2 separate regions of the Homo sapiens genome follow, and region 2 is linked to region 1. Evidence: fine-mapped expression QTL. Tissue or cell type: thyroid. Region 1 holds a variant in brackets; the other region holds the start of a gene. All regions are shown on one strand. Distances are from middle to middle.

Region 1 (2,904 bases):
AAGGACTTGAAGGATGGGGGCGCTTGTGTGGTCTAGAACTGTTTCTCAAACTTCTGGAAGCCATTGACGGGGTTTGCAGAAGTTACAAAACCCCATTGATGAATTAGTAAGATTCAGCTATACCAAGCCCATGAAGCTCTAATTTCAGTCTGGCGGTTCTACATTATATCAGCTAATCATGTTTCCCTCCCTACCCTGCTTTTCTTTTTTACTTAGTGCAATTGAGAGCTGTGTTTTTAGTGCTACACTTCATGCCTTTTCTTCCTTTCCTATTTCTTTAGCTGGACTCTTCTAAGCTGGTAGTTGAGTTCATTTGACTTTCTTGTTAATAGATTTGAGAGATGCTTTCCAAACAACCTTTCAGTTTCTAAGTCTTGAGAATATCATTTACTGTGCAAGCATGGTTTGCGTTGTACTGGGTCAGTTAAACGTAACACCTTTTGTGCTTGTTTTAGGATCCTGATGGTGAACATGCCAGGAGAGCAATGCAAAAGGTGATGGCTACGACTGGTGGGATGGGTATGGGACCAGGTGGCCCAGGAATGATTACTATCCCACCCAGTATCCTAAATAATCCCAACATCCCAAATGAGATTATCCATGCATTACAGGCTGGAAGACTTGGAAGCACAGTATTTGTAGCAAATGTAAGTAAACAGAACCATCGTCTAAAGTAGAAAATCAGAACTTTATGAAATGACCTTGTCAATATGTTATAAAAGTAATTCTCACATTTGAGAAGAAAAATGTAAAGAAGGGTTTTGTTCTTGATTTCTTTAAAAATCAGCCTTATAGGCGGGCTTTGTCTGCATTCCTAAGTCACAGGCTTGACCGTGGTCTCGTTGGGGCTGTGATTCCTGAGTTTCGCAGGTGTTTCCGCAAGCAGTAACCGAGTCTGCATTCTCCGTTGGTTTATTTTATGCAGTTTTGGTGCAGAGTAAGACTGTACGAGCAGAAGTGCACTGACACCTTCCTCTTGTTGTGTCTGGGGTGAATGATAATACCTCCACCATCTGCAAGGGGAAATATTTTTAGAATAAAGTAGGTTGGGTGGGGTGGGGAGTGGTAAAGCTTATCAGGGAAACAATTTTTTAAAAATGTTCAGAAAATGAGTATTAATTTGAAGTATGAGGTGACTTAAGTTTCTGAGAAAAGAGACAATATATTTACTATAGGTACAGTTTATTTACAGTGAAGGCCAGGCTTTATAATCCTATTTTAAAATTTCCATTGCAGTTGATTAGTTTTTGTGACATTATTTCCTAATACTTTTTTCCAACCAAAGCATGTATCATTCATGTAGTAAAAATGTTGTGTTTCTTAAGATGTTTACATTGAGGTTTTTACCCCGTTCTCTCTCGATTAGCTGGATTATAAAGTTGGCTGGAAGAAACTGAAGGAAGTATTTAGTATGGCTGGTGTGGTGGTCCGAGCAGACATTCTTGAAGATAAAGATGGAAAAAGTCGTGGAATAGGCACTGTTACTTTTGAACAGTCCATTGAAGCTGTGCAAGCTATATGTATCCTTCTGCAGGAATTCAACTTATGAACAGTTTGACCTAAATTGCTGTGTTAGTAATGTAGGTTTGTGTGAGGAAGAGGT[G/GACTGTGTGTATTC]ACTGTGTGTATTCATGTTTTTTATGTGACTAGGGGGAGTGCATTACTGTGGAATTAAGAGGTTCTCTGGGCCGGACCGGTCACGGTGGCTCACGCCTGTAATCCCAGCACTTCGGGAGGCCAAGGCGGGCGGATCACTTGAGGTCAGTTCGAGACCAGCCTGGCCAACATGGTGAAACCCCGGCTCTACTAAAAAATGCAAAAATTAGCTGGGCGCAGTGGTGGGTGCCTGTAATCCCAGCTACTCGGGAGGCTGAGGCACAAGAATCGCTTGAACCCGGGAGGTGGAGGTTGCAGTGAGCCGAGATTGCGCCACTGCACACCACCAGCCTGGGTGATAGAGTGAGACTCAGTCTCAAAAAAAAAAAAAAAAAAAAAAAAGGTTCTCTGGGGGTGGAATTGATTCAATACAGTGTGGATAGAGGGGATGGTTACAACATGGGCATATGCCCATGAGTCTTTCTACTGTTTTCTTTTCAGAAGAGTCTAGGTTTGAAGGAGGAAGTCCAAAGAATGTGCTACTAGAGAGAAAGTGGGGTTGTTGTTTCATGTGTAATACATCCTTATAGGACCTCACTCTTTCCAGTGAGTAGACATCATTTTGGAAGAGGCCACTTCTCCTTGACCCTAGGCTTAGCCTAGAGTTTTTAATCCCTTGGAGAGTACCCCACAGGAGCACATTCATACAACTCAGACAAGACCGTCACTGCATGTCTTACCCAGAAAACATGGTCCTTCAGTTTAGATAGTGGTAGATGCCTGGCCCATTGGTCACATTCAGAGAACCTTGATGCCACTGCTTAAGAGGATGGTTTGGTGAAATTGTAAGGTTACGAATGAAGCTTCACACCTAAGGAATAAGCGGAAGTTGTCTTGTCCTCCCCGCCAGCTTTATTTATTGTTCCTTTTATGTTTATTGTTGAAAGTATAATGAAGAATTGAAATTGCTCATAAATTCATCACTTAGAGGGACTGGTAGCAGTTGGAGTATTTTTCTTTCTTTTTGTATTTCTCTTGTGCACATTTTTAGAATTGCAAGAAATAGCCTTAATTGTAATACCAGCTATGTTCAATGGCCAGCTGCTATTTGATAGACCAATGCACGTCAAGATGGTAAGTCAGTAGGATCTTTCTCTGTGATATACTCAAGTCTAGCAAAAACATGGAATTAATAAGAGTGTACATATAGCCACTATGAAATATTTGTGGATTAGTCTAAGTTAAATAGGGTGCAGTATGTTGAGCAAAATTGTGAGAGAAATAACATTTTGCTGGTCAGGCGTGGTGGTTCACGCCTGTAA
Region 2 (2,904 bases), 21 kb before region 1:
CTCAAAAAGATAATCGCTGCATCTTACTGCCCAAGTTGCCACAAGCACACGTAACATCTGATGGTGCCAATTCGACTGTCTGCACTTGGAAAATGGCACATTGGAGGCTGCACAGCACCATAAAACTGATGCCACGAATGCACACAAAAATAAGACCATACAGCATTATGCCTAGTACAGAATACACCCTGAATTCTGTCACAGTTCACTTTATGCAACATTGCAAGAGTCCTCTCGCTCTTTATTATTATTTTTAATTTTTTTGAGATGGGGTCTCACTCTGTGACCAGGCTGGAGTGCAGTGGCCCGATCTTGGCTCACTGCAACCTCCTCCTCCTGGGTTGAAGCGATTCTCCTGCCTCAGGCTCCCCAGTAGCTGGGATTATGGGCGCCTGCCACCACACCCGGCTAATTTTTGTATTTTTAGTAGAGACAGGGTTTCATCATGTTGGCCAGGATGGTCTGATCTCTTGACCTCGTGATCCACCCGCCTTGGCCTCTCAAAGTGGTAGGATTACAGGCGTGAGCTGCCGCGCCCAGCCATTAATTTTTTTTTTAATTTTGTTTTTAACTTTTAGGTTTGGGGGTAAATGTGAAGGTTTGTTAAATAGGTAAACACTTGTCATGGAGGTTTGTTGTACAGATTATTTCATCACCCAGGTATTAAGCCCAGTACTCAATACTTATCTTTTTGTTTTTTGAGATGGAGTCTCAGTCTATCTCCCAGGCTGCGGTGCAGTGGCGTGATCTCGGCTCACTGCAACCTCCGGCTCCTGGGTTCAAGCGATTCTCCTGCTTCAGCCTCCCGAGTAGCTGGGATTACAGGCGCCCGCCACCACGTCCAGCTAATTTTTTTATTTTTAGTAGAGACGCGGTTTCACCATGTTGGCCAGTCTGGTCTCGAACTCCTGACCTCAGGTGATCCGCCGCCTCGGCCTCCCATACCCAAAGTGCTGGGATTACAGGAGTGAGCCATCGCGCCTGGCCCCATTATTAGTGAATTTTAACAGTTTTCCGTTTCTTCTGGACGAACTGTTTGCAATTATAATGCGAATTACGGATAATACTCTGATATTATTCCATGCCGTTCCGTTGTTGCCTACAAAGTTCGCGCTGGAGAACCGCGCAATTGCGTTACAAAAAGAAAAAAATCACACAAAAAGACACAATGTTTTAAGAAAGTTTACGAATCGTGTGCCGGACCGCGGGTTGAACAAGCTTCATCTAAAACTTCCAGGAATCTCTAGACAGGATCATTGCTTCCCCTCTGCTCCAGCTCTGGTTACAGAAAGCTGAGAGTGACTAGGTCTAGGTGTTTGTGTGGGGTGGGGTGGGGAGATGCCTCCTCTATCGGACTCAGAGGACGCGCGCCGGGAACAGCCAGTCGGTGCCTAACGCGAGTGTATCTCGAGAGAGAAGCGATCAACAGCTGCCGGTCTGCGCCTGCGCGCGGCGGGGGCGTGGCCCGGGGCGAGTGGGGCCAAGGAGGCAGCCGGGAGCGGCGGGCGCAGGTGTTACTGGTTGCGTCGGGTCACGTGGGCGCGCAGGCGCAGCGCGGTGCAGCCCGTTCGCTCACACAAAGCCCAGACGCGGAGAAAATGGCGGCAGGGGTCGAAGCGGCGGCGGAGGTGGCGGCGACGGAGATCAAAATGGAGGAAGAGAGCGGCGCGCCCGGCGTGCCGAGCGGCAACGGGGCTCCGGGCCCTAAGGGGTGAGTATCCCACGGTCCTTTGCCACGGGTAAGGGTTCCTCTCCGCGGCCGACGCGGGCGGCGGCTCCGTTAGGTCTGTTGGCGGCCTAGCCCCGGCGCGGCCTCGGCCCCGGCTGTTCCCGTACCGCCTGCTCAGGGTAGCGGCGTCTAGGGCCGTGAGCGGGGAGCCGGGGGAGCCTCCAGAATCGTCCCCTACACCGGGCCTCGAGCCTCGCCACCCTCAGTCCCTCCAGGCCGGGGCCAACCCCGTAGTCGAGGCCTCAGGCCCAGCTGCTGCGCATGGGGGTTGATGGCGCGGGCCCGGACCGGAGAGCCTCCGAGGCCTACCCGACCGCTCCCCGGGAGGGTGACCTCGGGGGCCGGGTTTCAGCCCCCCGTCCCCTCTCCTCCCGGGGTCTGTTTTCTGATCCGTAACGTGGGGGGAGGAGAGAGGGTGCGCGCCCGGGAGGCCTCGCGCGCAGTCAGCCCGAGTCAACGGTAACCGAGCGAGGGAAGCGTCAGGAAGGGCCGCGAAGCCGGGTCGGGGGGCTCCCCTCCTGCCCCGCCCCTTAGTCCCCGCGCGCCGACCGCGCTCCGCGGGAAGTGCCTCCCTCGGAACCGCCCCTCGCCCCACGCTCTGGCCCTGGCTCAAGTCCCTCGCCGTTTCCCGCTCCTCCTCCCCGGGTGCGCCGCAGGTATTAGTGGAGAGATGGGATCTGCTGCTTAGCGTTCACCCTCGGAAGCAGACAGATACGAAGTCGGGGGAGGAATCCCCTTTTTCCCGTGTTTCGGGGAAGCTGTTCTGTCAGGAGGCGGGTTCATTTACTTCCAGACTTCATCAGCTTTTCGAGTCCTGCTTGGGGCTCTTTGACTCCTTGGCTTTTAAAAGTTTCTTTAAAGGAGGAAGCATCGACTTGTGCCCCGGTGAAACTCATTCATTCTGATTACAGACACTTAAGAGAGACAGAGAGGTTTTGGCTCCAAGATCAGCGGCCGGGAAGGAAGGGGAAGCCTGGGTACACATTGAATTTCCCAGACATTTATTTCATTGTGGTAAAATAGACATAACGTAGACTTTGCCATTTTAACCATTTTTTAAGCGTATAATTCAGTGGCATTGAGTATACTGACTCAGTGTGCTGTAACCGTCACTGCTTCATGTCCAGAACTTTTTCATCATCGGAAACAGAAAGTGTAGCTATTAAATACTAACT

The links. PIP is the estimated chance that this variant, and not a neighbour inherited with it, causes the effect.
Region 2: it holds the start of HNRNPM, and the variant in region 1 is fine-mapped to the expression of HNRNPM in thyroid (GTEx, PIP above 0.99). The same link has a PIP of 0.9 or more in breast, pancreas, prostate, stomach, subcutaneous fat and sun-exposed skin.

Annotation. Positions count from the first base shown.
Region 1 is chr19:8,464,869-8,467,772 of GRCh38, forward strand. It overlaps HNRNPM (heterogeneous nuclear ribonucleoprotein M), which reads left to right. Exons shown (of 16, transcript NM_005968.5): 6 at 456-647; 7 at 1,367-1,520; 8 at 2,667-2,716. Among named protein-coding and RNA genes, the nearest start is that of HNRNPM, 21 kb to the left of the region's middle. The variant G/GACTGTGTGTATTC (reference allele first, on the strand shown) is at 1,604.
Region 2 is chr19:8,443,401-8,446,304 of GRCh38, forward strand. HNRNPM (heterogeneous nuclear ribonucleoprotein M) reads left to right here and starts at 1,575. Exons shown (of 16, transcript NM_005968.5): 1 at 1,575-1,711. The coding sequence starts at 1,599. RefSeq lists silencers at 1,334-1,613, 1,854-2,083.